Homo sapiens: one gene and its partners. The protein of the gene in region 1 purifies or fractionates together with the protein of each later gene. This does not show direct contact. Each region holds a gene or a part of one and is shown in the gene's direction. Other genes may lie near its edges.

Evidence for each region.
Region 2: the proteins of LIMK1 (region 1) and YME1L1 purify together in Homo sapiens (affinity purification with mass spectrometry; one large-scale study listed by BioGRID and IntAct). This does not show direct contact.
Region 3: the proteins of LIMK1 (region 1) and NUP98 purify together in Homo sapiens (affinity purification with mass spectrometry; one large-scale study listed by BioGRID and IntAct). This does not show direct contact.
Region 4: the proteins of LIMK1 (region 1) and MMS19 purify together in Homo sapiens (affinity purification with mass spectrometry; one large-scale study listed by BioGRID and IntAct). This does not show direct contact.
Region 5: the proteins of LIMK1 (region 1) and CAD purify together in Homo sapiens (affinity purification with mass spectrometry; one large-scale study listed by BioGRID and IntAct). This does not show direct contact.
Region 6: the proteins of LIMK1 (region 1) and RBFOX3 purify together in Homo sapiens (affinity purification with mass spectrometry; one large-scale study listed by BioGRID and IntAct). This does not show direct contact.
Region 7: the proteins of LIMK1 (region 1) and SLC35E1 purify together in Homo sapiens (affinity purification with mass spectrometry; one large-scale study listed by BioGRID and IntAct). This does not show direct contact.

The regions. Positions count from the first base shown.
Region 1 is NC_000007.14:74,114,804-74,118,303, forward strand, and holds part of LIMK1 (LIM domain kinase 1), read left to right. Parts: intron 1-998; coding exon 999-1,155; intron 1,156-3,500. UniProt on the Homo sapiens protein: Serine/threonine-protein kinase that plays an essential role in the regulation of actin filament dynamics. Acts downstream of several Rho family GTPase signal transduction pathways.
Region 2 is NC_000010.11:27,116,385-27,119,884, reverse strand, and holds part of YME1L1 (ATP-dependent zinc metalloprotease YME1L1), read left to right. Parts: intron 1-435; coding exon 436-591; intron 592-2,157; coding exon 2,158-2,309; intron 2,310-3,500. UniProt on the Homo sapiens protein: ATP-dependent metalloprotease that catalyzes the degradation of folded and unfolded proteins with a suitable degron sequence in the mitochondrial intermembrane region.
Region 3 is NC_000011.10:3,787,555-3,791,054, reverse strand, and holds part of NUP98 (nuclear pore complex protein Nup98-Nup96 isoform 1 precursor), read left to right. Parts: intron 1-3,500. UniProt on the Homo sapiens protein: Plays a role in the nuclear pore complex (NPC) assembly and/or maintenance. NUP98 and NUP96 are involved in the bidirectional transport across the NPC. May anchor NUP153 and TPR to the NPC.
Region 4 is NC_000010.11:97,491,923-97,495,422, reverse strand, and holds part of MMS19 (MMS19 nucleotide excision repair protein homolog), read left to right. Parts: intron 1-3,500. UniProt on the Homo sapiens protein: Key component of the cytosolic iron-sulfur protein assembly (CIA) complex, a multiprotein complex that mediates the incorporation of iron-sulfur cluster into apoproteins specifically involved in DNA metabolism and genomic integrity.
Region 5 is NC_000002.12:27,241,369-27,244,443, forward strand, and holds the end of CAD (multifunctional protein CAD), read left to right. Parts: coding exon 1-28; intron 29-542; coding exon 543-755; intron 756-933; coding exon 934-1,059; intron 1,060-1,251; coding exon 1,252-1,407; intron 1,408-1,503; coding exon 1,504-1,605; intron 1,606-1,829; coding exon 1,830-1,924; intron 1,925-2,047; coding exon 2,048-2,150; 3' UTR 2,151-2,575; downstream 2,576-3,075. UniProt on the Homo sapiens protein: Multifunctional protein that encodes the first 3 enzymatic activities of the de novo pyrimidine pathway: carbamoylphosphate synthetase (CPSase; EC 6.3.5.5), aspartate transcarbamylase (ATCase; EC 2.1.3.2) and dihydroorotase (DHOase; EC 3.5.2.3).
Region 6 is NC_000017.11:79,097,052-79,100,551, reverse strand, and holds part of RBFOX3 (RNA binding protein fox-1 homolog 3), read left to right. Parts: intron 1-2,785; coding exon of another isoform or gene 2,786-2,806; coding exon 2,807-2,860; intron 2,861-3,127; coding exon 3,128-3,260; intron 3,261-3,500. UniProt on the Homo sapiens protein: Pre-mRNA alternative splicing regulator. Regulates alternative splicing of RBFOX2 to enhance the production of mRNA species that are targeted for nonsense-mediated decay (NMD).
Region 7 is NC_000019.10:16,562,416-16,565,915, reverse strand, and holds part of SLC35E1 (solute carrier family 35 member E1), read left to right. Parts: intron 1-3,500. UniProt on the Homo sapiens protein: Putative transporter.

The DNA.
Region 1 (3,500 bases):
ACTTGGGAGGCTGAGGCAGGAGAATGGCGTGAACCTGGGAGGCAGAGCTTGCAGTGAGCTGAGATCGTGCCACTGCACTTCAACCTGGGCAATAGAGCAAGACTCCAACTCAAAAAAAAAAAAAAAAAGATAAAATTGGGCCAGGTATGGTGGCTTACTCCTGTAATCCCAGCACTTTGAAAGGCTGAGGCAGGTGGACCACTTGAGGCCAGAAGTTGAAGACCAGTCTGGGCAACATAGCAAGACCCTATCTCAATCAGTCAATCAACCTAAATAAATAGTAAATCTGGTGGCATGCCAAGCACAGGACCTGGGTCTATAATCAAAATTCCTGTCTTGATGGGCACAGTGGCTCACACCTGTAATCCCAGCACTTTGGTAGGCCACAGTGGGTGGATCACCTGAGATCAGGAGTTCGAAACCTGCCTAGCCAAGTATGGTGAAACCCGTCTTTACTAAAAATACAAAAATTAGCCAGGCATGGTGGCAGGCGCCTGTAATCCCAGCTACTCGGGAGGGTGAGGCAGGAGAATCGCTTGAACCTGGGAGGCGGAGGTTGCAGTGAGCCGAGATCGCGCCACTGCGCTCCAGCCTGGGTGACAGAGCAAGACTCCGTCTGAAAAAAAAAACAAAAGAATTCCTGTCTTCTCTCCGAAACAAAGCAGCATCAGTGCCCCCGCAGGTGGGAGGGAGCGCTTGCAGGAGGGAGCAGTGGGTCCGCCACGACGGTCTGGGGAGCAGGTGGGGAGGGGGCAGAGGGTGCAGCGTGTGGTGGGAGGGAGGAAGCCACACTGCTATCTTCAGGTGCTTCCCGCAGCTCCATTTGCAAAGAGCGGATGGGTTTGGGGAAGGAAGGGGTCCCCACCCTGTGCCAATACAGCGTATCAGAGGTATGTTCTCTGGGCTGTCTACAGGTTGGCTTGGGGTCCTGGGGAGGGGCAGGCCAAGCGGGCAGTACTAGGATCGGGTCCCAGCATGACCCGGCTTCACCTTCCCAGAACAAGAATGTGGTGGTGGCTGACTTCGGGCTGGCGCGTCTCATGGTGGACGAGAAGACTCAGCCTGAGGGCCTGCGGAGCCTCAAGAAGCCAGACCGCAAGAAGCGCTACACCGTGGTGGGCAACCCCTACTGGATGGCACCTGAGATGATCAACGGTGAGTGGTTCAGCCCTGCCCATCATGGCCCTCACGGGAAGCCATGGGGGAGCCCAGGAGAGCTGTAACCTCCCAAGCCCCTGGCCCCTCCCAGCCTCCTTGGCTCTTCAGTTACCCTGTGGGTCCTGTTGCTCCTATAACACACTTAGTGGCAGCCAGGCACGGTGGCTCACGCCTGTAATCCCAGCACTTTGGGAGGCTGAGGTGAGTGGATCACCTGAGGTCAGTAGTTGGAGACCAGCCTAGCCAACATGGTGAAACCCCCATTCTTTACTAAAAATACAAAAATTAGCTGGGCATGGTGGTGGGTGTAATCCCAGTACTGTAGTACTGTAATCCCAGCTACTAGGGAAGCTGAGGCAGGAGAATCGCTTGAACCTGGGAGGCAGAGGTTGCAGTGAGCCGAGATCGCGCCATTGCACTCCAGCCTGGGTGACGAGCGAAACTCCATCTCAAAAAATAAATAAATAGAAGACACTTAGTGGCTTAAATAAATGATCATACAGTTCTGGAGTCTGAAGTCCAGCGTCAGCCTCACCGGGCTGAAATCAAGACGCCGGTAGGGTGAGCTCCTTCTGCAGGCTCCGGGGCACCTGTTTCCTGACCTTTTCTGGCTCGTGGAGGCTTCCTCATTCCTCCTGTTGCTGCCCCCTCCTCTGTCTTCAGGGCTGGCTGCAAAGCATCTTCTCTTCTCTGATCTCTGCATCCATCCCCGCATCTCTTTCCCTGGCTCTAACCTTCCTCCTTTTTTTTTTCTTTTTTAAAGAGGGTCTCGCTCTGTTACTCAGGCTGGAGTGCAGTGGTGCCACCATAGCTCACTGCAGCCTCAACCTTCTGGGCTCAAACTGTCATCCCACCCCAGCCTCCTGAATAGCTGGGACCACAGGCATGCAACACCACACCCAGCTAATTTTTTTATTTTTTATTTTTTATTTTTTTTTGAGACAGAGTCTCGCTGTGTCTCCCAGGCTAGAGTGCAGTGGCGTGATCTCAGCTCACTGCAAGCTCCGCCTCCTGGGTTCACGCCATTCTCCTGCCTCAGCCTCCCGAGTAGCTGGGACTACAGGCGCCCGCCAACACGCCTGGCTAATTTTTTGTATTTTTAGTAGAAACGGGGTTTCACCGTGTTAGCCAAGATGGTGTCGATCTCCTGACCTCGTGATCCGCCCGTCTCGGCCTCCCAAAGTGCTGGGATTACAGGCGTGAGCCACCGCGCCTGGCCAATTTTTTAAATTTTTAATAGAGACGGGGGTATCACTATGTTGCCCAGGCTGGTCTCAAACTCCTGGCTTCAGGCGATCCTCCTGCCTTGACCTTTCAAAGTGCTGGGATTCCAGGCATGAGCCACCATGGCCCTCCATCCTTCTGATAGGGACCCTTACGGTGACATTGGGCCCACCTGGATAATCCAAAAGCAGCCCTCCATCTCAAGACCCTCAACTTAATCCCATCTGCAGAGTCCGATGGAAGGTGGGACGTATACAAGTCCCAGGGATCAGGACGCAGTCATCTTTGGGGATCATAGTTCTGCCTCCCACAGGGTCTGCTTCCCTCAGTCCATTTCTTTGCTGTCAATGGTCCTATATATGCCCAGATTATAGGTTATAAAGTCCTTCTACAAGCAGGTGACACATGAACACAGGTTCAGGGCAGGCAGACCCCAGCCATCACCTCATCATAGTTAACCTAGTTAAATTAGCCTGGCATGTGGCGTGGTGCCTAATGCCTGTGGTCCCAGCTACTCAGGAAGCCAAAGCGGGAGATTTACTTGAGCCAAGGAGATCAAGGCTGCAGTGAGCTATGATCATACCACTGCCTTCTAGCCTGGGCAACGGAGTGAGACCCTGTCTCAAGAAAACAAAAAATAGGCCAGGCACAGTGGCTCACACCTGTAATTCCAGCACTTTGGGAGGCTGAAGCAGGCGGATTGCTTGAGGCCAGGAGTTCGAGACCAGCCTGGCCAACATGGTGAAACGCTGTCTCTACTGAAAATACAAAAATTACCCGGGTGTGGTGGCACAGCTACTAGGGAGGCTGAGGCAGGAGAATCACTTGAACCCAGGAGCAGAGGTTACATTGGGCCAAGATTGCACCACTGCACTCCAGCCTGGGCAACAGAGGAAGACTGTGTCTCAAAAAGAAAAAAAAAAAAACCTTCCTGTAATCCCAGCACTTTGGGAGGCTGAGGTGGGCGGATCACGAGGTCAAGAGATTGAGACCATCCTGGTCAACATGATGAAACCCCATCTCTACTAAAAATACAAAAAAATTAGCTGGGCGTGGTTGCACGCGTCTGTAGTCCCAGCTACCCGGGAGGCTGAGGCAGGAGAATGATGTGAACCCAG
Region 2 (3,500 bases), on another chromosome or scaffold:
TATGGCTCAGAATAGCTAGCTATTTTCTTTTTTCCCTTGGAATGTGAGGTGTTTTTTTTTTTTGGTTTTTTTTTGAGACAAGAGTTTTGCCCTTTTTGCCTAGGCTGGAGTGGAGTGGCACAATCTTGGCTTACTGCAACCTCCACCTCCCGGGTTCAAGTGATTCTTCTGCCTCAGCCTTCTGAATAGCTGGGATTACAGGTGCATGCCACCATGCCCAGCTAATTTTTGTATTTTTAGTAGAGATGGGGTTTCACCATGTTGGCCAGGATGGTCTCCAACTCCTGTCCTTAGGTGATCTGCCTGCCCCAGCCTCCCAAAGTGCTGGGATTACAGGCATGAGCCAACGCACCCAGTTGGAATGTGAGTTCTTTGTGAAGAGCTTTCTTTTACCTGTTTTAGACTTATTAGCGTTGTGTTCTCTTTTTACATTAGCCGTTGATCCAGAAATTATAGCTCGAGGTACTGTTGGCTTTTCCGGAGCAGAGTTGGAGAATCTTGTGAACCAGGCTGCATTAAAAGCAGCTGTTGATGGAAAAGAAATGGTTACCATGAAGGAGCTGGAGTTTTCCAAAGACAAAATTCTAATGGGTAGGTTTCCTTTCTTTTTTTTCTGTCTTTTACTTTTCATTGTGTTAGATAATTCATTTAGGGGCAAATACTCTATTCAAACAGCTAAAGCCATGGCTATGTTGAATCTAATCTTACTCTAAAACTTCAGTGTCTGGGTTTTCAAGATTTGTAATAAATGATTTTACAAAATTCCCAACTTAACATCAAACAAATGCCATTAAACTGTAACATTTTCTTGACAATAATCTTGTCAGTGATACAGAACTGATTTTATAGTGTACCACATTTATTAGTTTTGTCTCTTTCTTAGAAAACCTTTTTTTCTGACTGGAAAGCTTTAAAAAGTGATGGGAACATGAAAATATATACTTGACAACACCACAATTTGGCATCTTACGAAACAAATATATTCTAGTTGCTTATGTAATTATATAGTTAAACTGGTAGTGGGGAGATGAGGCACGTATACATTTCCTCTTGTCAGACATTGCTGCGAAAAAGGATACTTTATTCTGTGCTTAATTTCGATTTTAAATCTTGGATTGGCTTAAAATCACATTAATTATGATATTCTTGTTAAACTGGAAGTTTATTTTATAGAAATAGAAATAAGTTTTCCCTTTTGAATTAAGATGATAGTTTTGACAGTTTTGGTTTTCAGTTAAATTGTTAAAGTTTGTATGTGTTAGGAATGAATTCTGCCCATTTTAAAAAACTTTGTAGACTGGGCGTGGTGGCTCACACCTGTAATCCCAGCACTTTGGGAGGCCAAGGCAGGAGGACTGCTTGAGCCCAGAATCGTTGGAGTTCAAGATCAGCTGGGCAACATAGCAAGACTCCATCTCTACCAAAAATTTTAAAAATTAGTTGGGTGGGGTGGCATGCGACTGTGGTCCCATCTACTTGGGAGTCCTAGGTGGGAGGATTACTTAAGTCCAAGAAGTTAAAGCTACAGTGAGCCATGATCATGCCACTGTATTCCAGCCTGGGTTACAGACCCTGTTTAAAAAGAAACAAAATTACTAAAAATTACTAAAGCTAGGTGCAGTGGCACATGCCTGTAATCCCAGCACTTTGGGAAGCTGAGGTGGGTGGATTGCTTGAGGCTAAGAGTTCAAGGTTGGAGTGAGCTATAATAAGAATGACTTTAAGGAGAATGAGTTTTTTGTTTTATAATATTAATCCCATATCAGATACATTCACCTCTCAGTATCCACTGAAGGGGTGGGGATTGGTTCCAGGACCCATGTGGATACCAAAATTCAGGGATGCTCAAGTGTCTTTTATAAAATGGTGTACTATTTGCATATACCTACATAATTCTCCTGTATACTTCAAATCATCTCTAGATTACTAATACAATATAAATGCTCTGTAAATAGTTGTTATAATGTATTTTTTTCATTTGTATTATTTTTTATTGTTCCTCTTCCCCATAGTTTTAATCCTTATTTGGTTGAATCTATGGATGCAGAATCTGCTGATAGGAAGGGTGGAGTGTATTTGATTTGCAGACAAGAATGTGTTTTGTTGATTTAAATATACCTTTCTAATGGAGTATTTACTCAATTAAATTTATCTTAGGGCCTGAAAGAAGAAGTGTGGAAATTGATAACAAAAACAAAACCATCACAGCATATCATGAATCTGGTCATGCCATTATTGCATATTACACAAAAGATGCAATGCCTATCAACAAAGCTACAATCATGCCACGGGGGCCAACACTTGGACATGTAAGTTTTTTGTAGTGTCTCGCCCTGTCACCCAGGCTGGAGTGCAATGGCGCGATCTCAGCTCACTGCAACCTCTGCCTTCCGGATTCAAACGATTCTTTCACCTCAGCCTCCCAAGTAACTGGGATTACAGGTGCCCACCACCACGCCCAGCTAATTTTTGTAATTTTAGTAGAGATGGGGTTTCACCATGTTGGCCAGGCTGCTCTAGAACTCCTGACCTCAGGTGATCCACCTGCCTCAGTCTCCCAAAGTGCTGGGATTACAGGCGTGAGCCACCATGCCCTGCCTAATTCTTAAATATCTAATTACTCCGCTGCCCCAAAAGGGAAAACATTATGTTTTGTAGTAACTGATTCAGTAGTTTCTCTAAGATTTTTATCATTTAGTACAAGTTTATCAGATCTTTCAACATTGTAGACATTTAAAAAATTTCTATGCACCTGGGGAGAAAACAGTCCTATTGCAGCATTATCCACCTATTGTTGTTGCTTTATAAAGGATGTTTTTATTCTCTAATTGCTGGTTTTTCATCAGTCCCCTGATGACCAGCTTTCAGCAACATGGTATAAAGTACTTTAGTGAGAGCTAAATGATAATTCTGGTTTGTATTTTTTTATTTTGCCCAGTCTTACGGTGCTGAAATTCTGGTTTTTAATGTAACTATATCAGAACTGTATCTGAATTTTTTTTAAATTTTTATTTTATTTTATATTGATGGAGTCTCGCGATGTTGCCCAGTCTACTCTCAAACTCCTGGGCTCAAGTGATCCTCACACCTCAGCCTCCCAAAGTGCTGAGACTACAGGTATGAGCCACTGCACCCAGCCTGTATCTGAATTTCTTTCATTACATTTTATTTTATTTTAATTTAATTTGGTTTTATTTTATTTATTGTATTTTATTTTTGAGATGGAGTTTCACTCTTGTTGCCCAGGCTAGAGTGCAATGGCATGATCTCAGCTCACTGCAACCTCTGTCTCCTGGCTTCAAGTGAGTCTTCTGCCTTAGCCTCCCAAGTAGTTGGGATTATAGCCATGCACCACCATGCCTGCCTAATTTTGTATTTTTAGTAGAGACAGGATTTCTCCATGTTGGTCAGGCTGGTCTCGAACTCCCAACCTCAGGTGATCCACCCACCTCGCCTGCCAAAGTGCTGGGATTCAGGCGTGAGCCACCGCACCCAGCCTC
Region 3 (3,500 bases), on another chromosome or scaffold:
GCGTGGTGGCGGGCGCCTGTAATCCCAGTTACTCGGAAGGCTGACGCAGGAGAATGTCGTGAACCTGGGAGGCAGAGCTTGCAGTCAGCCGAGATTGCGTCACTTCACTCCAGCCTGGGCAACAGAGCCAGACTCTGTCTCAAAAAAAAAAAAAAATTAAAATGGTGTTCCATGAGAAAAACAACTACATTTAGCTTTCAAAAGTAATTACAGGTGGTTTGCCCCTTGATATCCTTTGTATTTCAGTAAGCAGAAGTTTTTGAGTATTTCCCAATACTGAATTAAAAAGAATTGTGCTGTAGTGTTGAGAAATAATACAACTAATAATTTTTGCTGCTTCATTAAGGACCCTTTTAAGTGAAAGTGGAATTTTTTATATTGTAAATGGGTGACAGTGAAGAATTCAGTGAGTGTTAGTTCAGCACCATTTGGGGTTGTTGCTTTGATTCATGCTGAGTTCCCAGCATTTTTGCACACCATTGATTTTGCACATCAGCACAGAGGTCAGAACAGTAAAGAAAAAGGGCAAAGTGTCTTAGTTTTATTGTGAAAATGGTTTTGATTTCATTGAACCCCTGGAAGAAGTGTTGGGGACTTTTAGGGGTCTTTGGGTCACACTTTGAGAACCACTAATCTAGAACAATATTTCACATTGGTTCATAGAGCCCTAAGCTGCTTCATAGGGCAGAGCTGGTGGGGTTCTACTGTACCTACTCCCTCTTCACTTCAGCCAGAGCAGCTTCTGCTTATGTCTGTTTTATATGTCGGGTTTCATGGCTAAAAAATATTTGAAAATCATTAGTCAAGGGGAAAAGAATTGAGCACCTGAATTAGGGCTGGTCTGTTCGTGAAGGGAACAGTTCATCCTCAGTAAATGTTACAGTCACTCATCACTTCACATCTTTAATTTTACTTCGTTTGACACAGAGCTTACTAGTATTTGCACACTCAACCTTCTTGATAGGTAAATGGGGCTGTGTGCCGTGGCTCACGCCTGTAATGCTAGCACTTTGGGAGGCTGAGGTGGGCGGATCACGAGGTCGGAAGATCGAGACCATCCTGGCCAACTTGGTGAAACCCCATGTCTACTAAAATACAAAAAATTAACCCGGTATAGTGGTGGGTGCCTGTAGTCCCATCTTCTCGAGAGGCTGAGGCAGGGAAATCGCTTGAACCCAGGAGGCAGAGGTTGCAGTGAGCTGAGATCATGCCACTGCACTGCACTCCAGCCTGGCAACAGAGCAAGACTGTCTCAAAAAAATAAATAAATAAAAAATAAGTAAATGGGCCTGGCACAGGGGCTCACCTATAATCCCTGCACTTTAGGAGGCCAAAGCAGGAAGATGGCTTGAGTCCAGGAGTTAGAGACCAGCCTGGGCAACATAGTGGCACATGCCTGTGGTCTCAGCTTTTTGGGAGGCTAAAGTGGGAGGATCAGTTGAACCCAGGAGGTCCAGGCTGCAGTGAGCCATGATCATGCCACTGCATTCCAGCCTGGGCAACAGAGTGAGACCTTGTCTCAAAACAAAAACCAAAAAAAAAAAAAAAAAAAAGAAATAGGTAAATGAATTTGTAAATTAAAAAGATGGATAGTTGGGAATAAAGACAGAGATGTGAGATAGATGGAAGAGGTTGAATGATCATAGTAATCTCAATATATTGTGTTTGTGCAGGGATGGGATTTGTTTTTGTTTGCAGTGGTGCTTTATGCTTGTGCTGAGTGATCAGTGGATGACACTTAAGCATTGAGAAATAAGAAATTATGGCATTCTAGCTAGCCATTGAACCAAAGTTTAGAGTGAGGGGACATTTATTATGCTTTTTAAATTATAAATACCTGTAAAATACCTGTTGAAAAATAAACAAAATGCTGCTTTTGAGGAGCTCTAGTTTGAGGCAGCTTTGTCCTCCTACCAGTCTTTTGGTGTAGGCTGTACAATCCCTATTGTTCAGATGTAGAAATTGAGGTCTGAGAGATTGAATATTATGACTTACAGTAGCAAGTGGCAGAGGAATTTTTTATTTTTTTAACTTTTTATTTTGAATTAACTTTAGATTTTAAGAGTCAATGATGGTAACTGACAGGTTTTTTTTTGGTTGTTTTTTTGAGATGGAGTTTCACTGTTGTTATCCAGGCTGGAGTGCAGTGGCACGATCTCGGCTCACTGCAATCTCTGCCTCCTGGGTTCAAGCGATTCTCCTGCCTCAGCCTCCCGAATAGCTGGGATGACAGGCATGCGTCACGACAACTGGCTAATTATGTATTTTTTAGTAGAGACGGGGTTTCTCCTTGCTTCTCAGGCTGGTCTTGAACTCCCGACCTCAGGTGATCCGCCCACTTTGGGCCTCCCAAAATGGTGCGATTACATGCGTGAGCCACCGTGCCCAGCCTTATACAGTGATTCTTAATAGTTAGGTATATATCCTTTCACTTTTAGAAATTTATTTATTTATTTATTTTTGGAGACAGAATTTCACTCTTGTCACCCAGGCTGTAGTGCAGTGGCGCAATCTGGGCTCACAGCAACCTCCACCTCCCAGGTTCAAGCAGTTCTCCTGCCTCAGCCTCCTGAGTAGCTGGGATTACAGGCATGTAGGCTAATTTTTGTATTAGTAGAGACAGGGGGTTTCACCATGTAGGCCAGGCTGGGCTCGAACTCCTGAGCTCAGGTGATCCACCAGCCTTGGCCTCCCAAAGTGTTGGGATTGCAGGTGTGAGCCACCGCGCCTAGCCGAGTGACAGTTTTAAATACAGATGTCTCACACCAAAGCTAATATACTCTTCACTCTAAAATGATTAGGGTTATGTTAAGGGGATGAAAAAAATGCTGCTCAGTGCTATTAGGAAGGAGCTTATGTAAGATGCTATGGACTATTTAAAATTAATTTACACCCAGTGAGCAAAGTCAAGACATTTTTTTTACCCAGAGCAGCAGACAGGTAAAACACTCAGGTGGCAGGTATAATAACAAATATATTGCATAACTAAAAGCAGCTGAGAGACACTAGTTTACGTAATCGGGGTTGGAAAGGAAGAGGGGAAGTAAAGTGTTTTATTTTTTTTGAGATGGACTCTGGCTCCGTCGCCAGGCTGGAGTGCAGTGGCCCGATCTCGGCTCACTGCAACCTCCGCCTCCTGGATTCAAGTGATTCTCCTGCCTCAGCCTCCCAAGTAGCTGGGACTAGAGGCACACACCACCATGCCCAGCTAATTTTTGTATTTTCAGTAGAGACGGGGTTTCACCATGTTGGCCAGGATGGTCTCGATCTCTTGACCTCGTGATCTGCCCGCCTCTGCTTCCCGGAGTGCTGGGATTACAGACATGAGCCACCGTGCCCGGCCTTTAAAGTGTTTTTATACTAATAAAGAGTTTAAGGGTGTGCGGCAGTCTTGTGAAAGCAGGTGAGGCTTGAGCAACAATTTTTAGGAAGAAAAGGAGATACGATTTTTAGAGAGGGTATGATGTTCTTTTTTTTTGTTTGAGACAGCGTCTTGCTCT
Region 4 (3,500 bases), on another chromosome or scaffold:
AAATGCAGAAGGAGCACCCTTTGATCACAAAAGCAGCTGCTGCCACCTTTGTTTTGTACCTGGGTTCCTGGTGAAAGTGTCAGCTGTAAAGAAGCTGCAGGCGATGGGAGGGAAATAACCTGGCAGCCTAAGGGTTAAAGGCCTCTTGGGCAAGCCTTCAAAGCCTGCCACTACCTGGCCCCAGCCTTTTTTTCTCACTGCTCCCTGGACGTTTAATTCCAGGCAGCCACCTTTATTCGTAGTTCCCTGAGTGCTTTCCTTCCCAATTCCCTTCACTAGCTCTGTGTAATCGAAGTTAGACCTGAGAGTCAAGGCCCAGCTTGAGTTCCCTACCCCTCCCCAAGGGTTTCCTGATTAACCCAGCCAGACAGCATCTCATACGTCAGAATCTTTGTAGTACGCACTTATTTCTCAACCACTCATGTATTTAGTGGACTAGTTTAGTAGCTGTTGCTGTATACATCTCCACATCCTACCCTCCCAGTTGTACCACCAGAATCTCCTGAAATTGGCATCAGTAGGTACACAATAAAAACTGCTTGAGTGAATGCAATGAGAAATGTTGAAGGAAGAATCTGTGGAATTTGAGTTCTAACTAGTTATTATAGGGCTTGAAGGAGATAGAGGACTCTAAGAAGACCCCAAGGTTTTGAACCAGAGGATGAGGAAAAGAAATACTTTGTCCAAAATTAGGACGAGAGCTGATTTTCAGAGAATGTGATTTTTGAACACGTTGAATTTGCAGGTGATGGATATAATTTTTTTCCTTTTAGTTATTTGGATTTTCCTTCATTTCAGTCTTTATTGTATTGTGTTTTTCCATGTTTGTGATTCCCTAAGAATACCTCTATTCCTTAAGTCAAAGTATTAAAGAACAGTAAAATACAGTTTAGTGAAATATCTGAGGCATTATCAGCAGAAAGGGCATTTTGAGAGCTTGATTGGAACTTAGTCCTGATTGGGATTTTTCTCTCTCCTGCTCCTTCTCATCCTCCCACCCTACCCGCTTCCCCTCACTTCCCTTTGGCTGCTAGTCCAGATTCTCAAGAGGCTTCAACTCCATCAGACAGAGATCTGTTTGTGCATTCTGTGTCAATGATCACATGAATACTCCTTTGACTTCTCAGTGCCCCCACACAAACTGGTGCCTTGCTAAGGAAAGTGTGGGTAGTTAGGAGGTGCTAGTAGGTCCATTTTTAAGAGCAAATCTTGAACGTGTTGGAAAATCTTAGACCCTCCTATAAAGGGAAATGAACTTACACTGATTTTTTCCTTGATACCAGCGAAAATACCGTTAGGAAAATTAACTCTCTGTTAGCTTTCTTCATCCCAGGAGTCCAAGTGCATAATTAATAGTATTTCCAGGTATTACGGGTGTGTTGTTGTTGTTGTTTGTTTGTTTGCTTTTGAGATGGAGTTTTGCTCTGTTGCCCAGGCTGGAGTGCAATGGTGCGATCTCTGCTGACCGTAACCTCTGCCCCCCAGGTTCAAGTGATTCTCCTGCCTCAGCCTCCCGAGTAGCTGGGATCACAAGCATGCATCACCACACACGGCTAATTTTGTATTTTTAGTAGAGATGGGGTTTCTCCATGTTGGTCAGGCAAGTCTCTAAACTTCCGACCTCAGGTGATCTGCCTGCCTTGGCCTCCCAAAGTGCTGAGATTACAGGTGTGAACCACCATGCCAACCCTGGTTATTTTTAATTTTGGATAATTTGCACCATTAAAAGAATTAATCACTTAAAGTTAGTGGCCCATGGTCCATAAACCCAGGAATTTTACTTCTTTCTCATGCCAACCCAATCTCTGTTTATATCACTGTGGTAACACAGAACTTGTTACACTGTGATTGTTTTATTTATTTATTTTAGAAGCAGGGTCCACTCTGTTGCCCCAGCTGGAGTGCAGTGTGACCTCGAAGAACTTCTGGGCTCAAGTGATCCTCTGGCCTCAGCCTCCAGAGTAGCTGAGACTACAGGCCCGTGCCACCACACCTGGCTAATTTTTTTGTAGCGAACAGGGCCTTGTTTTGTTGCCCAAGGTGGTCTCCAACTCCTGACCTCTAGCGATCCTCTAGCCTCAGCCTACTGTGATTGTTTTAAATGTCTTTCTGGGCTAGGCATGGTGGTTCATGCCTGTAATCCCAGCACTTTGGGAGGCTGAGGTGGGAGGATTGCTTGGGCCCAAGAATTCGAAACCAGCCTGTACAGTATAGTGAGACCTTGTCTCTACAAAAATCTTTAAAAATCAGCCCAGCATGGTGGTGTGCCTGTAGTCGCAGCCACTTGGGAGGCTGAGGTAGGAGAATCACTTGAACCCTGGAGGGAGAGGTTACATTGAGCCAAAGATGGCACCACTGCACTCCAGCCTGGGTGACAGAGCAAGACTCTGTCTCAAAAATGAATAAATGAATGAATGTTTGTCTTTCTGCTCCAACAGACTATGGACTTCCCCAAAACTCCCTGCCCATATTTCTATCTTAAGCCCTAACATGGTACCCTATTTATAATATTCAGTAAATGTTGAATGAAAACGAACATATGGCTTTTTTTTTTTTTTTTTTGGGAGATGAAGTCTTGCTCTGTTGCCCAGGCTGGTGTGCAGTGGCGCGATCTTGGCTCACTGCAACTTTAGCCTCCTGGGTTCAAATGACTCTTCTGCCTCAGCCTCCGAAACAGCTAGGATTACAGGCCCATGCCATCATGGACAGCTAATTTTTCTATTTTTTTTTTTTTTTAGTAGAAACAGGGTTTCATCATGTTGGCCAGGCTGGTCTCAAACTCCTAACCTCAAGTAATCCACCTGCCTCGGCCTCCCAAAGTGCAAGGATTACAGGTGTGAGCCACCATGCCTGGCCACCATCTTCCTTACTTTTTTTTACGGTCTTGTAATAGCTTTATTATCTCATTTTTCTCTAATTTTTTCTTTCTTTTCTTTTCTTTTTTTTTTGAGACAGAGTCTCACTCAGTCGCCCAGGTGGGAGTGCAGTGGCTCCGTCTCCACTCACTGCAAGCTCTGCCTCCTGGGATCACACCATTCTCCTACCTCAGCCTCCCAAGTAGCTGGGACTACAGGCGCCCGCCACCACGCCCAGCTAATATTTTTGTATTTTTTTTTAGTAGAGACAGGGTTTCACTGTGTTAACCAGGATGGTCTCAATCTCCTGACCTCGTGATCCGCCCGCCTCGGCCTCCCAAAGTGCTGGGATTACAGGCGTGAACCACCGCGCCCGGCCTCATTTTTCTCTAATTTTTTCTACTTTTATACTTTTTTTTTTTTTTTTTTTTAGATTGAGTTTCACTCTGTAGCCCAGGCTGGAGTGCAATGGCATGATCTCAGCTCATTGCAAACTCTGCCTCCCAGGTTCAGGTGATTCTCCTGCCTCAGCCTTCGGAGTAGCTAGGATTACAGGCATGCGCTACCACACCCGGCTAGTTTTTGTGTTAGTAGAGACAGGTTTTTGCCACGTTGGCCAGACTGGTCTCAAACTCCTGACCTGAG
Region 5 (3,075 bases), on another chromosome or scaffold:
GAAGGAGCGGAGCCTCGACATCCTGAAGGTCAGGATCAGGGCCGGGGGTAGGGTCCAGGCCATCGCCTGCCCTTGGGCCGCATCAGCGCAGGGCCGCGCAGTGGTCAGAGTGGGTCTTCCTCCCCCTGCCATCCCGTCCCCTTATGCTAGTCCATCCCTCTGCTGCTGTAGATCTTCCCCCACGTTTTCCCTCCCCAAAGCAGGATTTAGCTGGCTGGGGAGGCCCTGAGCATGAGACCATCGCCCCACTAGTGGGGTCTTCTGGTCTGGGCTGCTGCAATCATGGGAGAGAGCTAGGGTGTGTCCTCCTTTCCCAGCTCGTTCAGACACTTAATGATGGGTGGTTTTCTGGAGGCAGAGCCTTTAGCTCAGAGTGACACCAGTGGTGGAAACGTCAAGGCTCTGACAGGTCACAGGGGAGGTTTGGGTGCAGAAGGGTCCTCACAGCACCCCTCAAGTGTCAGTTGGGGTGGTGGTGCCTAGCTGGGGTTTCCCCAGGGTGGACACGCATACGTACACCTTCCATCTTGCTCTTTCCCTAGGGGAAGGTCATGGCCTCCATGTTCTATGAAGTGAGCACACGGACCAGCAGCTCCTTTGCAGCAGCCATGGCCCGGCTGGGAGGTGCTGTGCTCAGCTTCTCGGAAGCCACATCGTCCGTCCAGAAGGGCGAATCCCTGGCTGACTCCGTGCAGACCATGAGCTGCTATGCCGACGTCGTCGTGCTCCGGCACCCCCAGCCTGGAGCAGTGGAGGTGAGGCCAGCCTGGGTACTGAGATGGGGTTAAGAAGGCTGGACCCAGGGGCATGAGAACCCTTCTGCCCACGTTTTCTGTGTTTTGGGCCAGATGAGTGAGGGGACCCCAGAAGAGGGGGACTGGCAGTTGGGGGGCCTCTGAGCTGCAAAAGACAGGATTTTCCCCTTTTTTCCAGCTGGCCGCCAAGCACTGCCGGAGGCCAGTGATCAATGCTGGGGATGGGGTCGGAGAGCACCCCACCCAGGCCCTGCTGGACATCTTCACCATCCGTGAGGAGCTGGGAACTGTCAATGGCATGACGGTGAGGGTGGTGGCAGGGTTTGGATCCCTGCCAGGGGACGATCTAGAGAGGGAGGCAGGAAGTGGTTACCCCGGTACAGGACAGCTGCATCAAGGAGGCCTTCATTCTGCTCCAGAGGCTTTTAAAAGCTTGGAAATGATGTCGGGGGGCACTCAGTCTGGGATCCCTGTGGTGACTGGATTCCTCTCCTAGATCACGATGGTGGGTGACCTGAAGCACGGACGCACAGTACATTCCCTGGCCTGCCTGCTCACCCAGTATCGTGTCAGCCTGCGCTACGTGGCACCTCCCAGCCTGCGCATGCCACCCACTGTGCGGGCCTTCGTGGCCTCCCGCGGCACCAAGCAGGTGAGACCCTCACAGCCCTGCCTGGAAGCCATGGAGATGTGGGTTGGGCAGTCAGAGCCCAGCGCTGCATCCACCATGGCTCTCCTCACCCTCCAGGAGGAATTCGAGAGCATTGAGGAGGCGCTGCCTGACACTGATGTGCTCTACATGACTCGAATCCAGAAGGAACGATTTGGCTCTACCCAGGAGTACGAAGCTGTGAGTGCTGGGCTTGAGGAAGAAGCCAGGGCTGCTGCCGTAGGGCATCAGATATGAGGACAGAAAGGCTGGGCTGAGGGCTGGGTCAGAGCTGTTAAACTTCACATCTGTCAATTGCCATAGCTGCATGTGGGTGTGGAGGGGACCCCAGTGGAGCCCAGACTTGTGTCCTCTGTAGCCACTCCTACCCCAAGGCACTAATGGGGACCCCATCTGCTTTGCAGTGCTTTGGTCAGTTCATCCTCACTCCCCACATCATGACCCGGGCCAAGAAGAAGATGGTGGTGATGCACCCGATGCCCCGTGTCAACGAGATAAGGTGGTGCAGCATCAGAGTCAGAGACTGCCTCGGGGCTGGTGGACGGGAGGAGACTTAGTCCTGGACAAGCCATCCATGGGCTGCACGATAACACTTCCTTTTTTTTTTTTTTTTTTTTTGCAGCGTGGAAGTGGACTCGGATCCCCGCGCAGCCTACTTCCGCCAGGCTGAGAACGGCATGTACATCCGCATGGCTCTGTTAGCCACCGTGCTGGGCCGTTTCTAGGGCCTGGCTTCCTCAGCCTCTTCTCTTTAGGCCCAGCTGCTGGGCAAGGAATTCCAGTGCCTCCTACGGGGGCAGCACACTTAGATATTCCTGGACATCCAGATAGCTCACATGTGCTGACCACACTTCAGGCTCTGGACTGGAGCTCTCTGGCATGGGGGTGGGGCCTCAGATGCTGGGGCCCAGTCTGCCCCATCTTCATTCCTGCACCTTAAACCTGTACAGTCATTTTTCTACTGACTTAATAAACAGCCGAGCTGTCCCTTGATGCTGAGTGTAGTAGAACAGAGCTTTCTTTTAGAAAATTGAGCAGATTCCCAAATTATAAGAGCAGCCTCACCAGGCAGGGCTCTGGCTAGGGCTGCGTGCCCACACTCGGCATTTTCACACTCGTGACTCTTTGGGACTCGGCAGGAGCGTGTTAACTCTGTGCTCTCTGAGTCCTGTGTCGTGCTGATGCCAGCGCTTACCTGGGGGCTCTGGCTGGTGTCCAGCCCTCCTTCCTCAATTCAGTTGACTCAAAGACCTGACAGAGAGTTCTGCCCTCTTCCTGACACTGGGAGAACACTCATCAGGGTAAAAGGAAGGCTGAGCACTGCGGCCTGTCTGAGGCCAGGCCTGGACTCTTCCTCACTCTTTCTGGTTAGTCCTCCTCCAGTGGCTAAGGCTGCCATTGCATTCTCAAAACCACCCTGGAGTTCTTCAGCCACTGTCACTATTAGGAGCCCCTCCTATTTCCCATCCCTGGGAGCCTCTGCCTGACATTGGACAGAGGGGCAGATGCCATGGAGGGCTGAGGAGCACTTTGGCTTGGAGACCCCAGGGCAGCAGCCTAAGGGCAGTAGCTTATGTGTCTGTGGGTGAGGGCTTCTGAGGAGCAGCTGTGCCCTCCAGTGAACTTGAGTAGCATTGGAGAAATCTCATT
Region 6 (3,500 bases), on another chromosome or scaffold:
GAAGCCTGGACAGGACCGCCCGATCCGCCACCTCTCCCCCGAGCTCTTCTCCTGGTGTCCGATGCTGGGGTGGGGCCGGGCCTCTGGCCTGGCCCAAGTTAGACTTGATTCTCATGGCCTCATATCCTGCTTTTCTGAGGACTTACACATCTCAAATTCTTTTTAAAAATTTGGGAGTGTTCCCACTTTGCAAGCATCCCGAGTGCGTCCTGGGTGTGACTCTTCTGTGATCTGGCACTTGGCACAGGAAGTAAAAGCGGTAGACATTTTTATAGGGTACAGGTGATCAACCAGCGGGGCTGCAAAATCTCTGGAACCAGCTGCCCACTCTGCACCCAAGGGCCACACCCACCGCTGTCTGGGCAGAAGTGAGAATTCAGGGGAGCATGGAAATCAGAACAGACCCATCTCTGAATGGCCTCGGGCTATGCGGCTCATGAGGGGCACGGAACCTACACCAGTGAAACATCAGGGAATGGAGGGAGGTGGGAACCTTTGCCCACCTTTGCAGCAAGAGCCGTTTCATCTCAATCTCTTCATCAGCCTGGGCACAGAGGGCTGCAGTGGGACGGCCCTGGGTTCTCTGCAGGTTGGCACCGAAGCCAACCCATGGGCTCTGGTGGCGAGTGCTGCGTGACTTGGCTTCAACACTACCCAACACTCTGGAATTCATCAGTTGGGGGTGGAGGTTTCCATTGTAGAAAACAAACCCACCAGGTTTGCCCAGGTGTTAACTATTTACGGTAGAAACAGGCCAGCCAGGCAGTCTCAGGCTGTCTCTGCCATCTGGGGTTCCAGACAGTGAAATGGAGGCAGCAGAGACAGGTGGAGGCTCCCAGAGAGGCAGAATTGACAGGGGAGGGCACCCAGGAAGCCAGAATCACCGGTGGAGGCATCCAGGAAGCCAGAATTGACAGGTGAAGGTGCCCAGGGCCATCTGAAGCACACATGCAGCCTCCAAGTCTCACTCGCCCAGAGTGGACCCAGAAGAGTCACTGGATGGAGCCCCGGGGAGTCTGGGCTTGGGGTCAGGGTCTCCAGGACTCTGCTCCATCATGGGCCTTCTAGTAAGAAGAGTCAGTTCTTCGGACTGGAGGTCTTCCCAGAAAACAAAACATTTCTTTCAGCCTGATGCAGTGGCTCATGCCTGTAATCCCAGCACTTTGGGAGGCTAAGGTGGCAGGATCCCTTGAGCCCAGGACTTCAAGACCAGCCTGAGCAACACAGGGAGACCCTGTCTCTACAGATAGTTTTTAAAATTAGCTGTGGGTGTAGTGGCAGGCACCTGTGGCCCAAGCTACTCGGGAGGCTGAAGTAGGAGGATCGCTTGAGCCCAGGAGGTCGAGGCTGCAGTGAGCCGTGATCGTCCACTGCACTCCAGCCTGGGCAACAGAGCAAGAAACTGTGCCCCCCTACCCCCAAAAAAAGTTTCTTCCTTCCTAACCTGGGATTTATCTTTTTGGAAGATTCCAAAGTCCCAGCAATGGCGTCCAGACACAAGGTTGTGTGATGGTGGGCCGGGGATGCGGGGTGGGGTGAAGACTTGGCCAGAGGGAGGAACATACCCCGACCCTCCGTCCTCACTGCCTCCAGTCTGCCTGCCCTGCAGTGGGGTTGTTAGAATCTGGGTCAGGGGTTCACACATGGCCTGGGCCCACTGCCACCCTCTCCAGATGTATCTCCCCAGCTGGCCAGTGGGCTCTCGTCCCTGCTGTTCCTCCCCACCCAGTGCAAAGGGACAAGGAGCCGGGCCCACGGGGCATGCTGTAGAGATAAGACCTGGGTACACTGAGGAGGGGTAAGGGGCTGGGCCTCGTCAAGAAGCCCTCCTGCCCAACCTGTCGGAATGCCTGGAGCCGGAGCCCACTGCAAGGCAGCTGGTGTCCCCCGCAGAGGCCTCCAGGTGGAGCAGGTCTTTGCTCTGCTCCTGGGTTCCCCCGGGGAGAGGAAGACTGGCCCACCTGCAGGAAGGGAGAGGCTGGGATGCCGATTACAGGCTGGGATCCCTGGCTCTGCCACTCCCCAGCTGCTGACGGGAGGTTGCTGTGCCTCTCCAGGGCTGTTTCTTCATCTGCAAAATGGGGAGGGTGTGGTGGCTCACTGGGCAGGGAGGACCCCGTGAGTTTCGAACAGTCTGTGTGGCTCACACACAGTGTTGAGGAAAACCAGCCCATCCTTATTATCATTCCCAGTCCAAATGCCCTTTCCTCCTCGACCTGCTCCCAGGCCACCCTCCCGGACAGCCGCTCTGGGGGAAGATGAGGACGGGAGGAAAGTGAGAGCAGGACTCAGCACGGGGAAGAGGGAGCAGGACGGGGACTTTGGCAGGCAGTGGGGAGAGCTTATGGGCAGAGTCCAAGCGCCTTTCCTGCAGCCTCTGGCCACCTGGAGCTCGGATGGTGGGGCTGTGCTGAGTCTGACTCCAGAAACCCTCATCCCAGCTGTGCTCAGGGGGGTAGATAACAAGTTCCACTTTCCCTCTCCAGTTCTCTTCTGGGAGGTGGGTACCCCAGGCTTCGGGGGATGACGCCCAGGGGTGAGGGTTGCTCAGGGGCAGGCTGAGGAGGATCACAATTGGGAAAGAATCCTAGCAGACCCCCAGGCAGAAGAGTCAGGAAGGAGTAGACCCTGGTGTTTTGAACTCAGCACTTGTCCGGGCAGTGTGGGAAAGGGGGGCCCGGCGCGGGGAGGCGCCCTGGGAATGTTCCCAAGGGCTCCACCGGTGTCGCTGGGGTTCCCAGGCATACGTTTTGGTGGGAAAAGGGTCGGGGAAGGCAGTGACTAGGTCTCTGTGCCTTTGTTTTAGGCTGGAAGCTAAATCCAGTGGTCGGCGCAGTCTACGGGCCTGAATTCTATGCAGGTAAAAGCTGGGGCGGGGCGGGGATGGGATGAGACCAGCTACTTGGCCCCGTGGGGCTCCGGGGGCTCTGGGGGCGGGGCATGAGGGGCGGGGCCAGGTGGGCCGTCCCCGCCCTCCCGTCGCCGTGTTGACTGAGTAGCGCTCCGGGGGCGGGGCTTGGGGAGGGGTTGGGGGCTAGGTGCGCGGGGGGGCTAGGTGTACGGGGAGGGGGTGCCAGGTGGGTCCCCTTGTGCCTCTCACACGTGTCTCGGGCCCCGTTTCCTGCAGTGACGGGGTTCCCCTACCCCACCACCGGCACAGCCGTTGCCTACCGGGGCGCACATCTTCGGGGCCGGGGCCGGGCCGTGTATAATACATTTCGGGCTGCGCCACCCCCACCCCCCATCCCGACTTACGGAGCGTGAGTACCTGGGCCGGGGGAGGCGTGGAGGAGGGGGTAGGACGGCGGGGAGGAGGGAAATGGGGAGGCCCTGCGCAGTGCGAGGGGCTAGGCAGCCTTTCCAGACCTGGGGGGGGGGAGGATCGTGGGAGCCCCAGAACTCAGCCCTGCAGCTGCCTCCATTATCTTCACCCCTATCCCCACCACGGCGGGCATCGCGGAGGTCACTGGCATTTAGGGGGACATTCAGAGCCCCAGAAC
Region 7 (3,500 bases), on another chromosome or scaffold:
TCCCAAAGTGCTGGGATTACAGATGTGAGCCACTGTGCCTTGCCAGCCCTGGAACTTTGAAAACTATGCACTGGCCAAAAAAAAAAAAAAAAAAAAAAAAAGCCGGGCGCAGTGGCTCACGCCTGTAATCCCAGCACTCTGGGAGGCCAAGGCGGGCGGATCACGAGGTCAGGAGTTTGAGACCAGCCTGGCCAATATGGTGACACCCTGTTTCTCCCAAAAATACAAAAATTAGCCAGGCATGGTGGCTCGCACCTGTAGTCCCAGCTACTTGGGAGGCTGAGGCAGAAGAATTGCTTGAACCCAGGATGTGGCGGTTGCAGTGAGCCGAGATGGTGCCACTGCACTCCAGCCTGGGTGACAGAGGGAGACTCCGTGTCAAAAAAAAAAGAAAAAAACATGCGCTGCCTGGGTGTGGTGGCTTACGCCTATAATCCCAGCACTTTGGGAGGCCAAGGTGTGTGAATCATTTGAGGTCAGGAGTTCGAGACCAGCCTGACCAATATGGTGAAATCCTGTCTCTACTAAAAATACAAAATTAGCCAGGCGTGGTGGTGCACGCCTGTAATCCCAGCCACTTGGGAGGCTGAGGTGGGAGAATCGCTTGAACCCAGGAGGCAGAGTTTGCAGTGAGCCGAGATCGCACCACTGCACTCCAGCCTGGGCAACAAGTGTGAAGCTCCGTCTCAAAAAAAAAAAAGAAAGAAAGAAAACTGTGCAGCTCAGTTCCTCCCTGGTCTCTGTTTCCATTTACTCCACGTCGAATCTTTTTGCCACCTGCAGGGTCTGCCTTCAGAGAATGTGTTATAAATGAATGCAAGTGCCTGCGGTGAGGAGGAGGCCAGTGCGATTCTTCCAGACTCGAGTTAGAAAGGAAAAGTAAATATTTATTGAGGTCTTAATGTGGTCTAGCTGGATTTGTGACATTTCTTATCTTTAATCCTTGGCTCCACCTGCTGAAGTAGTGGATATTACCTCTATTTTCCCAATCAGTAAACCATGGCTCACTTTTCTAACTTTCGTTTCACATTGATGAGCTGTAATTCTTCTGTGAAGAACTTTCCATCTTCCAGGACTAGTTTGTTACCTTGAAGTATGGTACGAGAAAGGCAGTTTAATGCTTAACTGTTCCTTTTGATGACTAATTTTCAGGATAGAGAGTTGGAGCTTACTCCAAATGTTGACCAGAGTTGAGGGTTTGTTTGGGGGTAGGGAAGGGGTTCTCTTTTTTTCTCCAGCATCATTGTGAACTTTTATGTGTTTGTCAGTTGCATGAATTATTCGTTTTCCTAGTCAAATTGTCCTGTCTTGGCCAGGCGCAGTGGCTCCAGCCTGTAATCCCAGCACTTTGGGAGGCCGAGGTGGGCAGATCACTTGAGGTCAGGAGTTCAAGACCAGCCTGGCCAACGTGGTGAAACCCCATCTCTACAGAAAATACAAAAATTTGCCAGGCATGGTGGTGCACGCCTGTAATCCCAGCTACTCAGGAGGCTGAGGCAGGAGAATTGCTTGAACCTGGAAGGCGGAGGTTGCGGTGAGCTGAGATCGTACCACTGCACTCCAGCCTGGGCGACAGAGCGAGACTCCATCTTAAAAAAAAAGAAGAAAAAAAAATTGTCCTGTCTTAGCCATTGGAGCCCTTCTGATTGGCTCCTTGCCCTTCTAGCACTGTGGGTCAGCGTTTCTCCCAGCGGGATGCCCGCCTTCACCTTGTGTACTTCCCATCCCAGAGCTGCAGTCAGCCCCTCCTTCAGGACTCCAGGTGCCGTTAGTGGGGAGCGGTATTTAGAGACACAATCCAGGTGCCATGGGTGCTTTTTGCTGCTGGGTGGTCATTGTTGTTAGGCCTTTACTGTGAAAAATTAGGAAGTACACACTTGGGGCAGCAGCAAAGAGTTCCTAGCAATTAGCGTCACTTTCAGTTGAACAGTCCAGATCTTTGCTGTTTTGAATTTCATATTTAGATCTCGTCGCTGGTATGCTTGGTTCCGCTCCTCGTTTCTTAGTTGCTTATTCTACCCGTTATTCACTGATGTTATTCTACTGTACACTCACTCATATAATTGCTTCAGAATGAGCATTCTCACAGCACAATTGCAACTGGAGTGCTGAGAAAAGGTTAGTATTTCTTTGCAGGCTGGGTGTGGTGGCTCACACCTGGAATCCCAGCACTTTAGGAGACCGAGGTAGGTGGATCCCTTGAGGCCAGGAGTTCGAAACCAGCCTGGCCAACGTGGGGAAACCCCATCTCTAGAAAAAATATAAAAATTATCTGGTGTGGTGGCGTACGCCTATAATCCTAGCTACTAGGTAGGTGGAGGTTGCAGTGAGCTGAGATCACGACACTGCACTCCAACCTGGGTGACAAAGTGAGACTGTCTCATAAAAATAAAAAAAAAGAAGAAGTCTGGTCATGATTCCTGTACTCTCCCTGTCCCCTCCCTGACCATGGATAACATTTCTTAGGCTCCTAGTTCACCTGTTCCATATTTTTGCAAATATAAGCAAATTTGCATGTATAATCACCCTCTGTCCTTATTACACACAGAGTAGCTTTTTATTTTATTATTTTATTTTATTTTATTTTATTTTTTGAGACGGAGTTTTTCTGTCTCCTAGGCTAGAATGCAATGGCATGTTCTCGGCTCACTGCAGCCTCCGCCTCCCGGATTCAAGCAGTTCTCCTGCCTCAGCCTCCCGAGTAGCTGGGACTACAGACACCCACCACCGCGCCCAGCTAATTTTTTGTGTGTTTTTACTAGAGGTGGGGTTTCTCCATTTTGGCCAGGCTAGTCTCAAACTCCTGACATTAGGTGATCCACCCACTTCGGCCTCCCAAAGTGCTGGAATTATAGGCGTAAGCGACCACGCCCAGCCCAAAAAGTAGCTTTTTAAATTTACAGGTCAGGCACAGTGCCTCACACATGTAATCCCAGTATTTTGGAAGGCAGAGGCAGGCAGACTGCTTTAGCCTCAGGAGTTTGAGACCAGCCTGGTCAACATGGTGAAACCCCGTCTCTACGTAAAACAAAACCAAAAATTAACCCGGCATGGTGGCACATGCCTGTAGTCCGAGCTACTTGGGAGCCTGAGGTGGGAAGATCACTTGAGCCCGGGAAGGTCAAAGCTGCAGTGAGCCATGTTTGAGCCACTGCACCCCAGCCAGCATGACAGAGCAAGACCCTATCTCAAAAATAAATATAAACATACAGTCATCCTTCCATATCTGTGGGTTCCACACTAGTGGATTCAGCCAACTGCGAATTGAAAATATATGGTAGAAAAACAAAATACTATAATAAAGAATAAGACATTTTAAAATAATACAGTATAACAATTATTTGTATAGCAGTTTTATTGTATTAGGGATTACAAGTAATCTAGCGATGATTTCAAGTATATGGGAGGATGTGCATGGATTACATGCAAATACTAAACCATTTTATAAAAGGGACTTGAATATCTGTAGATTTTGGCATCCGCAGGGGTCCCTAGAACCA